Regions from separate parts of the Homo sapiens genome. Here all the other regions are linked to region 1. Evidence: fine-mapped expression QTL. A gene starts in region 1. Each other region holds a variant in brackets. All regions are shown on one strand. Distances are from middle to middle.

The links.
Region 2: its variant is fine-mapped to the expression of CTNS in minor salivary gland (GTEx, PIP above 0.99).
Region 3: its variant is fine-mapped to the expression of CTNS in whole blood (TOPMed, PIP above 0.99). The same link has a PIP of 0.9 or more in blood mononuclear cells.
Region 4: its variant is fine-mapped to the expression of CTNS in whole blood (TOPMed, PIP above 0.99).

What each region holds. Positions count from the first base shown.
Region 1 is chr17:3,634,183-3,638,655 of GRCh38, reverse strand. CTNS (cystinosin, lysosomal cystine transporter) reads right to left here and starts at 1,896. Exons shown (of 12, transcript NM_004937.3): 1 at 1,825-1,896; 2 at 1,340-1,549. SHPK (sedoheptulokinase) reads left to right here and starts at 2,406. Exons shown (of 7, transcript NM_013276.4): 1 at 2,406-2,604. The coding sequence starts at 2,437. It overlaps LOC105371493 (a long non-coding RNA gene), which reads left to right. Exons shown (of 6, transcript XR_007065579.1): 6 at 1-159. RefSeq lists silencers at 1,531-1,620, 2,631-2,690 and enhancers at 1,901-2,150, 3,989-4,473.
Region 2 is chr17:2,754,873-2,759,345 of GRCh38, reverse strand. It overlaps a transcript of RAP1GAP2 not described here. Among named protein-coding and RNA genes, the nearest start is that of CCDC92B, 7.5 kb to the right of the region's middle. RefSeq lists a silencer at 4,049-4,258. The variant C/T (reference allele first, on the strand shown) is at 1,990.
Region 3 is chr17:3,656,469-3,660,918 of GRCh38, reverse strand. It overlaps CTNS (cystinosin, lysosomal cystine transporter), which reads right to left. Exons shown (of 12, transcript NM_004937.3): 8 at 4,333-4,432; 9 at 4,124-4,243; 10 at 2,744-2,914; 11 at 944-1,061; 12 at 1-683. The coding sequence ends at 550. Among named protein-coding and RNA genes, the nearest start is that of TAX1BP3, 9.9 kb to the left of the region's middle. The variant C/T (reference allele first, on the strand shown) is at 2,396.
Region 4 is chr17:3,681,630-3,686,102 of GRCh38, reverse strand. It overlaps P2RX5 (purinergic receptor P2X 5), which reads left to right. Exons shown (of 12, transcript NM_002561.4): 10 at 4,125-4,207. P2RX5-TAX1BP3 (P2RX5-TAX1BP3 readthrough (NMD candidate)) reads left to right here. Exons shown (of 15, transcript NR_037928.1): 10 at 4,125-4,207. Among named protein-coding and RNA genes, the nearest start is that of P2RX5, 12 kb to the left of the region's middle. The variant T/G (reference allele first, on the strand shown) is at 1,757.

The sequences.
Region 1 (4,473 bases):
ACTTGGTCAGCAAACATTCCCAAGCCTCAAAGGCTGAGACCCCTGGAGGAACGATGCCAGCAGAGACAAAACGACATTGAGAGGTAAGTCAATTAAAATGTTAAAAAACATCAGATTAGGCTGAGCGCAGTGGCTCGTGTGTGTAATTCCAGCACTTTGGGAGGCCGAGGCAGTTGGATCACTTGAAGTCAGGAGTTCGAGACCAGCCTGGCCAACATGGTGAATCCCCGTCTCTACTAAAAATACAAAAATTAGCCAGGCGTGGTGGCATGTGCCTGTAGTCCCAGCTACTCAGGAGGCTGAGGCAGGAGAATCGCTTGAACCCGGGAGGTGGAGGTTGCAGTGAGCCGAGATTGCACCATTGCACTCCAGCCTGAGTGATAAGAGTGAAACTCCGTCTCAAATTAAAAAAAAAAAACAAAAAAAAAACCAGATTGATAATTACATACAACTAGTGGCTTGTGAAAGCTACAAGATAGAAATGAAGTATCTCCTGACAATGGGCTCTGTCTGGCGTGCCCTTCCTATGTAAGTTCTAACTATTGTCCAGGCCTCATTCAGATGTCACATGTTTCAAGAAGGCTCCTCACCCATTCAGTCCCTTCCCAGGAGCAACCTGGGGCTAGGGGTCTAGTGTGGCAGCTCCTGTCTGCCAGGTATGAGTTGGTCCTGTCCTCTGTTCTACGACCTGGAACTCCCTGGGTCTCCTGCTTTTGGAGAGGGTACACAAATAGTGGCAAGGGCTGTGTGCACTGGAGACAGGCTTGACCTATTTATTACTTATGCGACCTTGTGGTGCCAAACAAGGAGGTGGTAACTACCTCACAGGACTTAAATGAGGAGATGTAAAGCACGCATTGTCAAGTGGGACTAAAATTGGCTGGGGGTAGGCTGGGCGCGGTGGCTCACGCCTGTCATCCCAGCACTTTGGGAGGCCGAGGTGAGCGCATCACCTGAGGTCAGGAGTTCGAGACCAGCCTGGCCAACATGGTGAATCCCCATCTCTACTAAAAATACAAAAATTAGCTGGGCATGGTGGCTCAGGCCTGTAGTCCCAGCTACTCGGAAGGCTGAGGTAGGAGAATCGCTTGAACCCCGGAGGCGGAGGTTGCAGTGAGCCGAGATCGCGCCACTGCACTCCAGCCTGGGTGACAGAGGCTGCAGACTCCATCTCAAAAAAAAAAAAAAAATTGGCTTGGGGTGGTAGTGAAGAAATCTAGCTATTACAATGGTTTGTGGCCACAGAAACAAATACACAGCGTACTAGTGGTATTAAATTTTATGGGAAGGGGGTAGGTAGGAATAACGAGGTTGAGAAACAAGGATATAAAGTGGTTACCTCTGTTGCTTAGGGCGCCTAGCGAGCTCTCACAAAACACAGTAATCCTCAATGTTACTGGAAGAGGCAGAGCTCAGGAGTCCTCCCTTCGCCCAGTGTGAAAACCCGGAGGGGAGGATGGGGTCTCGTGCTGCTCAGTCCCCCGGAGCCCCGCACTCCGCACGTCAACCGGCGCTCTCGCAAAGGTTCTCTCAGCGTCTCCAAAGCAATCTGCAAATTCCCCAACCGAGACCCAGGCGGCAACTGAGCAGAAGGTAAGGGGCTGGGAACGGCACCCACCCCGGCAGCCCGCTGCCCCTGCCTCGGCTGACCACCGCTCGGGCCCTTCCACCCGGGGGTTGTCCCGTGTCGCGAGGCCAGCACTGGTGGCGGGGAAAGGAGCCCGCCGCGGCTGAGGGCGCTGGACCCCCGGCAGGCTGCCCCGCTGACCTGCTGTGCCTCAAGGGGTCCGCCTGGGAAACAGGGGAGGCCGCGTCCGCTCTCACCTGAGCGCCCCCAGGCTCGAGGAACCGCCCTCACGGGACGCATGAGCCTCGCCAGGTGCCGGTCAGGAATGCACCGCGTTCCCCTGCCCGGCTAGACTTTGGGAGAGGCGGGTCCGCTGTCACCTGACCTCCGCCACCTGACTCGTGGGGCCGGATCTCGGCGAGATGAGCTCTGGGAGTTGTAGTTTCCGCGCGTCTTAGACGGACAGAGCGCAGCTGGGTCGGGCCGGGGCGCAGAGATCGGGGCTCCGGCGTGAGGGAAGATGAGGTCCGCTGCCAGGGACACAGAGACTCTTGGAGCCGCCAGCGCCTCCCGGCTCCTTTCGTGAGCGAAGCTCAGACCGCCCTCCATTGGGCGGAAATCAGAGCCCGTGGGGCGGGGCCCCCTTTAGGTCCCGCCTTCCGCCGCCTCTCCGCCTATAGCCGGGGCCCGCCGAGAGGTTGCGTGGAAGCTCGCCTTCCCCGGCCAGTGGGAAGACGAGAAGCCTCCATGTTGGGTGTGGCTGAAAGATTGGCAGGCGACTCCCCGCCCCTGCCCCGCCCCCCTGGGCGAAGAGCGCGGACTTGTGGGGCCGCTGGCTGCAGACTGGAGCTGCGCGGGTCAGGGAGATAATGGCTGCGCGGCCGATCACCCTCGGCATTGACCTGGGCACCACATCTGTGAAGGCAGCTCTGCTGAGGGCCGCGCCCGACGACCCATCCGGGTTCGCAGTGCTGGCGAGCTGTGCCCGTGCTGCGCGGGCAGAGGCGGCGGTCGAGAGCGCGGTGGCCGGGCCCCAGGTGAGTTGGACCCCCGGGGCCGCGCCGCCTCCAGGAGCCTCCTGACCACCCTTTTCCACCCCAGGAGGCCTCCCTGACAGCCCTTCCCGCAATGAAGTCTCTATTCCAGCTTGTCCCCAGCTTCTCCAGGGGCCCGTCTGCCTGCAGCAGCTGTGCTCATGATCCCTTAGGTCTGGTCCCAGAATCCTTCCCACCTGCTGGGACCGATTCCCCCCCGCCCCCTCCCCGACTCTCTGGCTTCTTCTGGGGGCCTTGCGCTTGGCGCTGGATCCCTGTGCTCTCTGTCCCCTGACCTTGGAGGAACTGATCTCTTGTGTGTATGGAATGACCACAGGCCTCCCTTTCACTCTTGCTGCTCTCCGCTCCTCACACCTGCCCTGTGACCTCAAGTTCAGGATTCAGTTTGTTGCCCAGGGCAGAGTCTGGGTTTTCCTCCGGAAATCAGATGTCAAATCAGGCCTAACTGGCTCCTGGCTCATTCCACAGAAGCAGAATGCGGACCAAGAAACCTTTGGTCAGCCGGGCGCGGTGGCTCACGCCTGTAATCCCAGCGCTTTGGGAGGCCGAGGCGGGCGGATCACGAGGTCAGGAGATCGAGACCATCCTGGCTAACACGGTGAAACCCCGTCTGTACTAAAAATACAAAAAATTAGCGGGGCGTGGTGGCGGGCGCCTGTAGTCCCAGCTACTCGGGAGGCTGAGGCAGGAGAATGGCGCGAACCCGGGAGGCGGAGCTTGCAGTGAGTCGAGATCGCTCCGTTGCACTCCAGCCTGGGTGACAGAGCGAGACTCCTTCCCTTCCTTCCCTTCCTTCCTTCCTTCCTTCCTTCCTTCCTTCCTTCCTTCCTTCCTTCCTTCATTCTTTCCTTTCTTTCTCTTTCTTACCAAGTCTCGCTCTGTTGCCCAGGCTGGAGTACAGTGGCGTGATCTGGGCTCACTGCAACCTCCGCCAACTGGATTCAAGTGATTCTCCTGCTTCAGCCTCCCGAGTAGCTGGGACTACAGGTGTGAGCCACCGCGCCCGGCTACTTTTTGTATTTTTAGTAGAGACAGGGTTTCGCCATGTTCGCCAGACTGGTCTTGAACTCCTGACCTCAAGTGATCTGCCCACTTCAGCCTCCCAAAGTGCTAGGATTACAGTTGTGAGTCACTGCGCCTGGCCCAGCTTTGTTTTTCACAAGCTCTTGCCACATACATGGACACGGTTGTTTAGGGTTCAGAGCCCATTTGGCTCAGAAGCATTTCTGAGGATAGGGATTTCAGGAGCACTTTGTATCTACATAGAAGCTTTCAAGATTAGTTTGGTTGGGACATTAGGGCATATTAAAAGGATTCTTACTTAAAGGACTATGAATTGGAGGCAAAGTTGGCTCTGACCCTGGTGGGGTGAGCAGGAGAGCTGGCATTAGGGGAGAGTAGGCTCAGAAAGTGCCAGTTTCTCCTGAAATAGAGCACTTCTTTTTTTTTTTTTTTTTTTTTTGAGACAGGGTCTCGCTCTGTCACCCAGGCTGGAGTGCAGTGGTGCAATCTCTGCTCACTGAAACCTCTGCCTCCCGGGTTCAAGTGATTTTCGTGCCTCAGTTTCCCGAGTAGCTGGGATTACAGGTGTGCGCCACCATGCTTGGAGAATTTTTTTGTATTTTTGGTAGAGATGGGGTTTCACCATGTTGGCAAGGCTGGTCTCAAACTCCTGACCTCAACTGATCTGCCTGCCTCGGTTTCCCAAAGTGCTGGGATTACAGGTGTGAGCCACCGCACCCAGCATGGCCACTTTTTTTTTTTTTTTAATTGATCACTCTTGGGTGTTTCTCGCAGAGGGGGATTTGGCAGGGTCATAGGACAATAGTGGAGGGAAGGACAGCAGATAAA
Region 2 (4,473 bases), 880 kb after region 1:
TTGAGCCACTGCACTCTATCCTGGGTGACAGAGCAAGATTCTGTCTCAAAAAATAAAAAATAATAAAGTATCCAACCACTATCTTTGCACAAGTATGCACAGATATAGATTCAAGAATGTTCTTTGCCACAATGCTTGTAATATCAAAATGTTCAAAATACTTGAAAGATTGTCAGTAGAGGTTAGGTAAAGGAATGATGACTCAAGGCTGGGCACAGTGGCTCATGCCTGTAGCCCCAGCACTTTGGGAGGCCAAGATGGGAGGATCCCTTGAGCCCAGGAGTTTGAGACCAGCCTGGACAATATAGCAAGACCCCATCTCTGCAAAAAAAAAGATGTAAAAGTTAGCCAGACGTGGTGGCTCTCGATGGTGGACCTCAACTATGGCCCCAGCTACATGGGAAGCTGATGGAGGAGGATCACTCAGGCCTGGGAAGTCGAGGCTGCAGTGAGCTGTGATCGCCACTGCACTCCAGCCTCAGTGGCGTTGTTTGAGCTCCTGAATCTAGCTGTGCCTGAAACATGAAGAGCTCCTAGAGTTTTTTCAGTTCAGTGAGTCTATAAATTCCCTTTTTCTTTGAAGCTAGTTTGAGTCGATTTCTACAATTTACAAGTGAAAGAATCCTGATTCATTAAAAAGGAAAGTAAACTGACTCAGTGGGAAGTCCTAGATCCAGGGGCCACAGCTGGAGCATGGCTGGCCATGGCTGGAGCATGGCATGGATTGAGAGGGTATCTCGGCCTCAGACGTGCACCCTGCCAGGCTGCCTAACCACTCAAGTCACATCTTCAGGACCTTCTCAGAAAGATGAGCTTTTATCTGGGGTGAGGGGTGACCCCAAACCCAATTACGGCACTAAAAATGATTCATGTGGCTGGGTGCAGTGGCTCACACTTGTAATCCCAGCACTTTGGGAGGCTGAGGCAGGCGGATCACAAAGTCAGAGATCAAGACCAGCCTGGCCAACATGGTGAAACCCTCTCTCTACTAAAATAGAAAAAATTAGCCAGGCGTGGTGGTGCGCACCTGTAGTCCCAGGTACTCGGGAGGCTGAGGCAGGGGAATCACTTGAACCCAGGAGGCACAGGTTGCAGTAAGCCAAGATCACACCACTGCACTCCAGCCTGGGCAACAGAGGTAGACTTCATCTTAAAAAAAAAAAAGGGGGGGGGGCGTGGCCAGGCGTGGTGGCTCACGCCTGTAATCCCAGCACTTTGAGAGGCCAAGGCGGGCGGATCATGAGGTCAGGAGATCGACACCATCCGGGCTAACATGGTGAAACCCCGTCTCTACTAAAAATACAAAAAATTAGCCTGGCGTGGTGGCGGGCACCTGTAGTCCCAGCTACTCAGGAGGCTGAGGCAGGAGAATGGTGTGAACCCGGCAGGCGGAGCTTGCAGTGAGCCGAGATCGCGCCACTCCACTCCAGCTTGGGTGACAGTGTGAGACTCCATCTCAAAAAAAAAAAAAATTCAGGCATCATCAGGTCCAGCCCAAGAAACAACCCCAGCAGACAGTGCCAGGGGCAAGAGTTGGGAGGATGAGTCAAAACAGGCATCCAAGCTCTACGCCTTAAATCTCTTCCTATTTCTTCTGTGAAGTGAGGGAACTGATCTGGAAGGTCTGGGGTGCTGGGGTGGTCCTACTTTCTTTATACCTCTGCCTCCCTCTGTTCCAGTTTTAGTCCTTGTGGCAGCAAGGTGGTCATCAGTGGCCCAGATCAACACTCTATGGAGACAGAGCTTCCCTGTCTCAGTGGTTCCAGCCCAGTTCCCATGATGTCATGTCACTGACCTGACCTAGGTCACACACCCATACTTGAGCCAGGCGCTGTGGTCGGGCGATGGAATGCTATGTCATTTTGAGGAAAGGGACACTAACTGCCCACCTCCCCTGAGGTAATTCAAAAGTGGATTACCTCTGCCAGGGGCACGGTGGCTCATGCCTGTAATCCCAGCACTTTGGGAGGCTGAAGTGGGTAGATCGCT[C/T]GAGCCCAGGAGTTCGAGACTAGCTATGGACAATATGGTGAAATCCCACCTCTACAAAAAAAATACAAAAATTAGCTGGGCGTGATGGCCCATGCCTGCAGTCCCAGCTACTTGGGAGGCTGAGGTGGGAGGATCACTTGAGCCTGGGAGGTGGAGGCTGCAGTGAGCCGAGATTGCACCACTGCACTCCAGCCTGGGCAACAGAGTGAGACCCTATCTCAAAAAAAAGAATTAAATAAAGGAGATTAATTCTACTTTTATCTGGTTTCTCTATTGGAGCTTCACTTGAAGAGTGATTCCACTGCTAACTAATATACTTGGAAACCCATTGGCACCTCCTGCTCTGACACTGTGGGATTTTCGGACAATGTGAACTTGGATGTGTGGCCACGCTGGGTGGAACCATCCAGGAAATATGCAAAACAGAGGAAAAGTTAAGCTCCTGAGCAAGACCTGGTTCAAACCTTGCCTCTACCATGCGCTTGTTGGGTGACCTTGAATCCTTTTCCCTCTCTGACCCTCGGCTTCCTCATCTTTAGTAAAATGGAGGTGCTAATACCTTCCTCTCAGTGTGTGCCTGAATCCTGACTACTCCAGAGCCACGGGAGGTGCTGGGGAAGCCCACGTTGCTGTTATTGATGACATTATTGTTCATTGTATGCAGGCTACAGAATGTACCTTCAGAGGTGCTCTCTGACCCTGCTGTGTGTGGGATGATTTGGGATGGGGAGGAGTCCCAGGCCGACATTCTCTTTTGAATCTTGGAGTCCTCCGAGGTCCGGGGAGGGCTGTGCAGGCTGCCCTAAGCTCCAAGTGCCGCCAAGCAGAGGTCAGGCCCCTGGCTGAAGCCGTCCTGAACATTGGGACACCTGGAACCCTGGGACGTGGGTTCGGGGGCCCAGATCAGGTGACTCGACAGCGCTGCGTCTGAAACCCTCTGAGCTTGCAGTCCGGTAACCTGACACCGCAGGCTCTGACTTCCCAGCGGGCCAGGACTGCGGAGGGGGAAAGGGCGACTGCCCCGCTACACGGGGACCCCTCCCCTGCCCTGGTCTCCTAGGCCCCCTTCTCTGCGCCCTGTCCCCAGAGTGCACACCCCCAGGGGCTCCTGTGTTTCGGGGCTAAAGCACCCCTTTCCACGCAGGGGTTGGGGGCTGTGGGTGGTGCCTTCTCGGGGCCCAAGTCCAGAGCCCTGCCCCGGGTGGCAGAAGGAACGGAGGGAGGCACAAATGGGAAACCTGAAGGGGGCGAAGGGGAAGGCGGAAGCCCCGTGCGAGCGTGAAAGGTGAAGTGCAGGGAAAGGGCGCCCCCGCGGGAGGGGGACGGGGTTCCCCCAAAGCCTGACGGCTCGCACAGGGTCCCCGTCGCCCATCTCTTTGGAGAGCCGCAGAGACCCGGCGCGGGGACGCGGGGTGGTGGGGACCGGAGGGGGTGGTGGGGACCAGGCAGCCGGCGCCCCTCCGCCCACCCGGGCCCCGCAGCCTCAGCCCGGGACGAAACTTTGGGCCCGCGCCCCGCTGCTTCCCGCGCCGGCCGGGCCTCGGGGTTCGCTCCCGCATTAGGCCCCGCGCCGCCCGGCGCCCACTCACCAGCGCACCAGCTGCCAGCGCTTCTCCCCCGGCGCCCGGCGGCCCGCCATGCCTCGCCCGGCCGCTCCCTGCCCTCCGCGGGCCGCACGGTGGAGGAGGCTCGGCTGCCGCAGGCGGGTGTCCGGGGCGCGCTCGCGGGGAGGGCGCGGGGAGGGCGCGGGGAGGGCGCGGGGAGGGCGCGGCGCTCAGACCCCGCCCCTGGAGGCGGCTGGAGCCGGGTCAGCGCCGGCCCCGCAGAACGGGCGGGACAGCGGCCTCTCCCCGTCCGGGTCTCTCCCCGCCGCGCCGAGGAGCCGGGTTTCTGGGGAGCACTGGGCGGAGTCTGGTTCCCCGAGTCCTACTGACGCGCGGAGAGACCAGGCGGCCCATTGCCTCGTTCTGTGCCTTACTCCCTTAGGAAACCCGTTCTACCCAGGAAGTGATGCCTAAAGAAGTAAACTACTCGGCCGGGCGCGGTGGCTCACGCCTGTAATCCCAGCGCTTTGGGAGGCGGAGGTGGGCGGATCACGAGGTCAAGACGATCGAGACCAACCTGGCCAACATGGTGAAACCCCGTCTCTACTAAAAATAGAAAACTTAGCGGGGCGTGGTGGCGCCTGCCTGTAATCCCAGCTACTCGGGAGGCTGAGGCAGGAGAATCGCTTGAACCGGGGAGGCGGAGGTTGCAGTGAGCAGAGGTCGCGCCATTGCACTCCAGCCTGGGCAACAGGGCAAGACTGTCTCAAAAAAAAAAAAAAAAAAAAAAAAAGAAAGAAAAGAAAAAAACGTGGATAAGTATTGTCATTATATTAAAGTGAGGATAGGTTTTTTTTTTTTAGCATGACATCAGTGGCAGAAGCCATAAAGGAAGAGATTAATGGATTTGGCTAAAATAAAAATGTTTAATATCTGCACA
Region 3 (4,450 bases), 22 kb before region 1:
GCTGAGTTATGTACAGAGAGTACGTCAGGAAAGTGGCCTTCAGAGAAAGAGCCCCATGGCCTAACCCCAAAGTCCTAGCCCGTCCACCAGCACCTCTGAGTTCACTGGCCACGGCACCGGGCTGCTTGATCTCTGGGAATGCAGCGGTGGCAGCAAAGTGCCCTTGGCTCACCCGGCTGCAAGGTCAGCCCTTCAAGCTGCTTGCAGAAACGCTGGTAGTTTGGGGCAAGGCCTTCGGCTGCAAGCTTGGTGCCCAGTCCTGCCTGAGACGGCTGCCAGAGCCTGTGCGCGCTGCCTGAAGCCTTAAAGAAAAGAGATGGCGGTGTCAAGGCGACGGTGCCACGTGCCTGGCCGGGGAGGCCCAGGAGGGGCCCGGACGAAGGCAGGCTATTGAATGGCCTCTGGCCCCAGGAGCAGAGTGGTCTCCTCTGTCCGCACACTGAGCCAGCCCTGTGTGCCAGGGCCCAACCGCTTCTCCGGCCTTCGCTGGGTGAGGCCTTCCCCAGCAGGGCACGAGGCCAGAGGCTGGGTACACTGGGTCCCTGGGTGCTAGTTCAGCTGGTCATACCCCGGTCTCTTTCTGTACAAACAGAAGTGCTGGATGAAGAAGACGACGTCGAAGACGATGGAGAAGACCCCGAGTCCAAACTTGGTTGGGTCTCCGAAGATCAGCGTCCACTGGTCTGTTAGCAGCCGGGGGACAGAAGCTGGTGTTAGGTTGGCAGCTCCTGAGGCAGCTGGAGCTTGTGGGGTGGTGGGCGGTGGGGGTCCCAGAAAACCACAAAGCCTCCAGCTACGAAGGCCCCTAGGTGGGTCTCTCCTTGGGGGCTGGATTGGCTTGGATCCCAGGTGGGGGTGGAGCCCTGGCTGGAAGGTCCCGGGAAGGCTGGCCCCGCCCGATGCCCCAGCCGCAGGGTGGCCAGCAGCCCGCTGGCTGACTCACCGTTGTTGTAGGACTGGAGGAACATCTGCAGGAGGCTGAAGCTGCCCCCGGTGAAGTCCAGGAGCACGTTGCCAATGCTCCAGCCCTCAGTGCTTTTGTAGTAAAAGTTCATGTAGGCCTGGGCCAGACAGACGGACAGACAGACGGAGGGCGGTGAGGGCTGGGCGGCTGCCTCATGCGCCTCGTGACTGCCCCTCCAAACAAAAGCGGTTCTCATTCCTCCCACTGGGGCCTTGGCTCCAAGGACACGGTGACCTTTGGGCTATGACAGGCCTCAGCCAAGGAACAGTTTGGGTGGTCCTGGGGGTAGGCGTCTCATCTGCATGTACAGCAAGCAAAGGCCCCGCACCCCCCACACCTCACAGCTCCAGCAGAGGCGGGGCCGATGCGGCCTTCCCCGTCTCCTCCACATCCCTGGGGCCAAGGCCCTGTGCTAGTTTCCCTGTAGCTATGATTCTTCTTCTCACCTCCAGGCAAGGCTGTCCCCAAACTCAGCCTGGACTTCATGTGCTTAGGGACTGGTGGGAGTGGGACTTCTGGTTTGGAATCCTGGCTCCATCACCGGAGCCTGCTGTCTTGGGCAAGTGACAGTTCTCCTAGCCTTGGTTTCCCCGTCTGTAGAGCGGGGTTAACGCCCCCCACAGGCCTGGCCGGGGCTTCCTGGGTCTGGTTGGGGGGGCGGGTCTGCGGGGATGCGCCCCAGTCTGACTGCCTGTGCCCCACGTCCTCCCATGCTGCAGAGCCCTGTGGGTCCTCTGACTGCTGTGACCTTTCCTTCCCCCCGTGAGGCAGGTCCTGGCCTCTCTGGTGGCCTCCCAGTGAGCCTCTAGTCAGTCCCTGTCTGTGTCCCGGCTCACCCTCTTCCGTACTTGCTGCTGCCCCTCCAGCAGTTCCAAACGTCTCCAACCTGGGCTCCTCCATCCCCGGTTTCTTGGCCCCAATCCCTCCCACCCTCAGGGACTGGGGCCCACTTCCCCAAACCTTCCCCTCCTCGGAAGCCCCCCCCAGCTCCCGGGACCTGACCCCAGCTTCCCAGCTTCAACATGCTCAACACTGTTCAACCAGCCACATCCCCTCACTGCCGCCCCGTGTCCCGCCCCAGCCTCTGTGCAGGCTGGCCTGGCCCGGAACGCCCGGGCTCCTTGGCCACAGAACTTAGTCCTGCTCAGCCTAAGAGTCCAGTCCTGCCTCCCAGTCAGAACGCTGGCCCTCCTGAGCTCACAGAACACGAGGCTCCCAGGGCTGGGGGCACTGGAACAAGGCTTCTCCCTTTGGGAATGGGGTGAGTTAAATGAGGCCCTAGGTCCCCGGGTGCAGCAACTTCAGCCCTGACCCTGTCCCAGGCTGTGGGGCAAGATGTGCTGGACCCTGAGTCCCCGGATCTGAAGAGGACCGGCTATGCTCATAGGACGGGCTGAGCTCTGCGCGGGAAGGGGCTCCCTCCTCCCACCT[C/T]ACCTCTCCAGAGTGTCCTGCTGTGGAAATGGAGGCAGTGGTGAGGGCAGAGCCAAAGGCATCAGGAAAGGCTGGGGTGTGGAGAAGGGGAACCACCCGCACACCTGATGCTTAGGGGAGCGTGGGGTCCAAGGGGCCTCCGCTAGCGATCTCCTGTGATTCCAGCCCCGGGGGAAGAGCGGCAGGCTGGCCTCCCCACCGCCCCGCTCCCGCTGGGCTCCCGGGCTCCCTGTGGCTTTCCGTCCTGTTTCCTCACGCCGGCAGGAGCTGCCCCACCGGAGCAGGGCCTGGGCCATGTAGCTCTCACCTCTCCTGCCACCGGCCATGTGAACAGGGCCCTGGAGGTACCTGTGGAAAATACTTGACCAGCGTGACTGCGAGCTTGATGTAGGAGAAGCAGAAGAGAAACTGCAGCCACGTGGTCACTCCCACTGCAGCCACGATCATGGTGACAAATGCGAAGAGCCACGCGAGCACCAGGAAGCCGATGGCAGGCCAGGACACGCGCTGGCCACCGCGCTGGGGGCGAGAGGAGGGCAGAGATGTGGACCCACACAGAGGCCACGCCGGGGCTGAGCAAGGACGGCCCCGGATAGGGCGGGCTTAGAGAGGGGCACGGAGGCTGGACCCTGGCCTTGAAGGAGCCCCTGCAAGGTGGGGGCTGCACTGGGGTTGTGGCAGGGGAACATGTGGACCACAGAAAGCATCACACCTGGGCTGGTGCTGGACATCCCCAGCACCAACCACACCTTCTCATCGCCAGGGCCTCCTGTTCAGGCTGCTTGGACTCTCAAGCTCTGTCTGCTTTGTTCCTACTTGGCAGAACTGGGCGCCTCTCAGCACTCACTTGGAGACGTGGGGTCGGAACTCTGGTGGCCTGGTGCCTCTCCCAGCCAGGTACTGACTCGTCCCACGACCCGGCAGCAGCCTGAGGATCTCAGGAATCTGTCCCCTCGCCTTGCCTTTCCCTGAACACGGGCCCAATGTGGGCCACCTTCACTCTCGCTTCACACCAAAAGCTAAGAAAGCCTAGAAGGTTCATACGGGTGGGGCCAGACAGCCCCCAGCTGGCCTTACAGTGTGAAGGGAACTCCCTGAGAGAAGGGAAAGCAAAGCTGTCATATCAGGGGTCCCCGGACCCAGCCTTGGTGGGGCCCTGCCCTGCCGACACCCATGGCTTCCAGCAACAAAGCTGAATACAGGTGTCTCCGCCTGCACGCGGGCCCCCTCCTGGCACCCTGAAGCCCAGCTGCACCCGCCTGCTCAGGGTCCCTCTCAAATGCCCCTTGGCCTCTGTGACCTGACCCCTCCAGGAGCCCACCCTGGCCCCTCCCCTCCTCCATAGGAACTTCACTCATCCTTGGAGCCCAACCAAGCGTCTTCCTCTGCCCTCCTCCCTTCTGTGCCCTCCTCCCTCCTCCCTTCTGTGCCCTCCTCCCTCCTCCCTGGCAGGGCTCAGGGCCTTGCACTCCTCCATGAGCTGTCTGTGCTCCTCTGTGCACGGCTCTCAGCCTGAGTCCAGGCACTGCCTCTCCCTGAGTCCCTCACCCCAGACTTGGGGGGCTCTGAGGGCCTGGACTCATGGGTGTCTTCTATGCCCAGCACAGGACCTGGATGAATGAACACACACCCTTCCTTTCCCAGGCTCTGCCGTGTCTTCTGTCAAAGGTGAGGTGGGGTGGCGGGTGTTGGCTGGGGTGGCCTGTGGGGGGCCAGGGCTGGTCTCACCTCATACAGGCAGCACTGCACGATGATGATCAGCGTGAGGACAACCGCGTGCAGGCTGAAGAAGACGTCGTTGCTGTTCACGGGGTTCACTCCGTTGGGGTATTTGAGGAGAAACTGCTCCTGTTTGGTGGGTGGGAGAAGCTGGGTGGTGAGGGGCAGCCGGGCCACCACGCCATGTGGGCAGAGATGTAGGGCAGGCAAGGCCGTACCTTGATGTAGGGCACCCAGAGGAGGCCGATGTTGAATACACTGTAGGCCACGAAGCCCGTCAGGTTCAGAGCCACGAAGTCGAAGCTCAGACCAATGACACTGCAGGGGGTGGAGGGA
Region 4 (4,473 bases), 47 kb before region 1:
GGGAGGGTCCCTGGGGGCCCCGCTGTGCGTTCTCCTGTTCTGAGGCTGGGCGGGGGGCGGGGGACGTTGGGAGGGTCCCTGGGGGCCCCGCTGTGCGTTCTCCTGTTCTCAGGCTGGGAGGGGGACGTTGGGAGGGTCCCTGGGGGCCCCGCTGTGTGTTCTCCTGTTCTCAGGCTGGGCGGGGGGCGGGGGACGTTGGGAGGGTCCCTGGGGGCCCCGCTGTGCGTTCTCCTGTTCTGAGGCTGGGCGGGGGGGCGGGGGACGTTGGGAGGGTCCCTGGGGGCCCCGCTGTGTGTTCTCCTGTTCTCAGGCTGGGCGGGGGGCGGGGGACGTTGGGAGGGTCCCTGGGGGCCCCGCTGTGCGTTCTCCTGTTCTCAGGCTGGGAGGGGGACGTTGGGAGGGTCCCTGGGGGCCCCGCTGTGCGTTCTCCTGTTCTCAGGCTGGGAGGGGGACGCTGGGAGGGTCCCTGGGGGCCCCGCTGTCCAACCTGCCTCGCTCACTGGCCTTGTCTCTATCTTCCAGGCAGGGAAGTTCAGCATCATTCCCACCATCATCAACGTGGGCTCTGGGGTGGCGCTCATGGGTGCTGGGAGTACCTCCCCTCCCTCCCCGCGTCCCACCCTCTCCCCGGCGGCCGCACTGGCAGGGAGGGGGAGGCTGCTGTTCAGGAGGACCGTGTCCCAGTGCCCCCAGAAAGAACCAGAGCTGGCAAGATCAGAATAGGCGTGGGAAAAGAGGGCTTTCTGGGATTTCACGCTCTGCCAGCTGTCCTCAGGTAGCAGTGACAGCCCGAGTCTCTTTCCAGAGCCAGGGAGGCATGTGCTGGTAGCTCTGCAGCTGTGCATGGGTTTAGGTCAGTCCCCAGCCGAGGCGTGGCTGGGATATCCCTGGGATCCCAGGTGAGTCCCTGAACTTCTAAAGTCTCTATCTCTACTTCTGCTAAAAGAGGGCAGGATTAGGCCGGGCGCAGTGACTCACACCTGTAATCCCAGTGCTTTGGGAGGGTGAGGTGGCGGATCACCTGAGGTTGTGAGTTCGAGACCAGCCTGACCAACATGGAGAAACCCTGCCTCTACTAAAAATACAAAAATTAGCCAGGTGTGGTGGCACATGCTTGTAATCCCAGCTGCTCAGGAGGCTGAGGCAGGAGAATCGCTTGAACCCGGGAGGAGGAGGTTGCGGTGAGCCCAGATCACACAACTGCACCCCAGCCTGGACAACAAGAGCAAAACTCCATCTCCAAAAAAAAAAAAAAAAAAAAAAAAAAGGGGGCAGGATTAGGCTGCAGACAGTTTCTTAGCCTGGGTGCTGCTGACTTTTTGGGTGGGAGAATTCTGTGTTGTGGTCTTACACACATCCTTGGACATGCCCTTAAACATTCCACAATGCACAGAGGGCTGTGCTGGGTGTCGTAGGAGGTTTTTGTTTGTTTTCTATTTCATATTTCACACTTTTCTGGTCGATACTATATTTTCCCAGACCCTGAGGATGTTGATTTCAGAGACAGGGTTTTTGCTCTGTTGCCCAGGCTGGAGTGCAGTGGCATGATCATGGCTCACTGCAGTCTTGAACTCCTGGGCTCAAGCGATCCTCCCACCTCAGCCTCCCCACTAGCCAGGGCTGCAGGTGCACCACCACCTGTGGCTAATTTTTAAATTTTTTGTAGAAATGGGGTCTCACTATGTTGGCCAGGCTGATCTTGAACCCCTGGGCTCAGGCAATCCTCCGGCATTGGCCTCCCCAAGTGCTGGGATTA[T/G]GGGCGTGAGCCACCGCGCCCAGCCCATTGTAGGATGTTTAAGAGCATTCCCGGTTTCTACCCACTAGATGTTAGGGGCACCCTCCCCTGCAGTTGTGATGGAGCAAAATCCCAGCTGGCTGAGAACCACCCGACTGAAAGGCTGAGAGGCAGGGAAGGCAGCCCTGTGACTCTTCCTTAGAGGTGGCCCTTCAGTGGGGCCGGGAGCGGCTCACAGGGGAGGAGACACAGGGACTGAGGGCAGGGAAAGGCGTCCTGAGTCTACACTGCCCCGTGGTCCTTCTGGAGTTTTTGAGAGCCATGGGAGTGGTCAGTGCCCATCCCGGCAGGTCCCTTTCCCAGGTTTCTGGCAGCCTCTTCCCTCATTCCTCTCCCTGTGCACACAAGACAGCCCCACTGGAGGAGTCCATTGGGACCCAGGGGTGACTTTTGTTAAAACCTGGAAAATTGTGTCCCATACCAGGACCACGTTCCTGGGAGGGGGTCAAGAAAAGTGAGCTCCACATGGATCCCTACCTGCAGACAGTCACTGGGAGGGTCCTGGATGTTTGCGCCTGTTACTTTCTTACAGAAGGCCCACCTTCAGCTATCACTTTTCTTTTTTTTTTTTTTTTTTTGAGACGGAGTCTCACTCTGTCGCCCAGGCTGGAGTGCAATGGCATGATCTTGGCTCACTGCAGCCTCTGCCTCCCAGGCTCAAGCAATTCTTCTGCCTCAGCCTCCTGAGTAGCTGGGATTACAGGCGTGCGCCACCGCGCCCGGTTAATTTTCGTATTTTTGTAGAGACAGGGTTTCACCATGTTGGCCAGGCTGGTCTCCAACTCCTGACCTCAGGTGATCCGCCCACCTCGGCCTCCCAGTGCTGGGATCACAGGCGTGAGCCACTGCGCCCAGCCCATTCATCACTTTCTTGTGATGTGGGTAAAATCAGAGCACCCTCTGGGGACAGACCTGTGAACTGGAAGTAATGGCGCAGGAAGAGGTGGTGGTCAAGGTTAGGTTTGGGGTTGGTCTCTGGGGAGCAGCGAATTGGTAAGCAACATTTTTGGCATCTAGGGGATGGATGTGCAGCACCCAGGGTCAGGGGACCAAGATTCCTTGTTGGCCCCTCCACCAACCCTTCCCACCTCCACTCTCCTCTATCATTCAGGCCCCAACCCTGCCCTGTGCTGTGGGTGGAGTCTCCCTCTGCTGGAGGAGAGGGGCAATTGCATCGCTCTGGTCCGTAGGGCACGTTTTGGGTGTGAGGGGCTGAGCTGGGGTCGTCCACCTCATCATCTTCCTTTTTTGTTTGTTTTTGCTTTTGTTTTTGTCTCTTTTGAGATGGAGTTTTGCTCTTGTTGCCCAGGCTGGAGTGCAGTGGTGCGATCTTGGCTCACTGCAACCTCCACCTCCCGAGTTCAGGCGATTTTCCTGCCTCAGCGTCCTGAGTAGCTGGGATTACAGACACCCGCCACCACGCCCAGCTAATTTTTGTATTTTTTAGTAGAGACAGGGTTTCACCATGTTGGCCAGGCTGGTCTCGAACTCCTGGCCTCAGGTGATCCGCCTGACTCGGCTTCCCAAAGTGCTGGGATTACAGGCGTGAGCCACTGCACCTGGCACCCATCATCTTTCTTTGACTAGCACCATAGCGTCCTTGTTGGTTAGAACCCTTCCAACCTATCTCACACTGACTACCACAGGGATCTTTCTAAATGCCAAAATTCGGGCTGTGGTGCCTCCGCCTCACCTAAAGGATGAGGACCAATGCCTCGGAAACATTCTAAGAAGCCTAACAGGCCAGTCCCCATCCCCTTCTCCAGAAGCGCATCTCCCTCTTCCCGCACAGGCCCTGCGGCATTTCCCAGATGTGACAGGCTTGTTCCTCCCTCCGTAATGTCCTTCCACCTCTTTGTCTTGTATAAACTCCTCTTTAGTCCTTAAGGACTGAATAGGGACCCTCCCCAGGCTGAGTGAAGTCCTATGTGGGTCGTCATCGACACGCCTGTCTCCTGCACCAGAGGGAGAGTCCCCAGGAGGTCTCTCTTGTCCAGATCCTCTCCGTACTTCGGTGCAGACACTGGCACGTGCTGGGTGCCCAGCAAATGTGTTGAAGGAACGATTGGATGGGGTCCGGGTGGTGCGGGGTCGGGGAGTGCCTGGCCTGTGGGATCGGGGGAGCTCCAGTCCAGCTTGAGCTCCACCATGGACCAGCTCTGTGGTGTCGGACAAGGGTGCCCCTTGCTGAGCCCAGTTTCCTCATCTGTTAAATGGGGACAGTGATGCCACCTTTAGGGGCTGTTGCAGGATGGAAGGGGCAAAGTGCCCTAAATGAACAGTGCTCTCAGAGGTCTAGGATTCTGAATCAGGAACCCCTGTTTTGCAGGGTGCTTTCTTCTGCGACCTGGTACTCATCTACCTCATCAAAAAGAGAGAGTTTTACCGTGACAAGAAGTACGAGGAAGTGAGGTCAGTTCCGCTTCCAGGCCGGCGGCCCGAGGGCAGCCCTGTGGAGCACCCCCGTGGCTTCGAGCCTTTGCCCTGATGTGATATTGATGGCTGGGGTGGGAGGCAGGGGCTGGAGGGCCCGGGGAGGAGAAGTGTTCTGAGTACATGCTCTACAGAACCGGATTCGGCCTCGGCAGCAGTGGGAGGAGAGGGCGCTGTGGGCCACAGGGCGGGAGACGGAGTTCACAGGCTCCGCCTGATTCTGGACAAGTCCCAGGCCTCCCCGG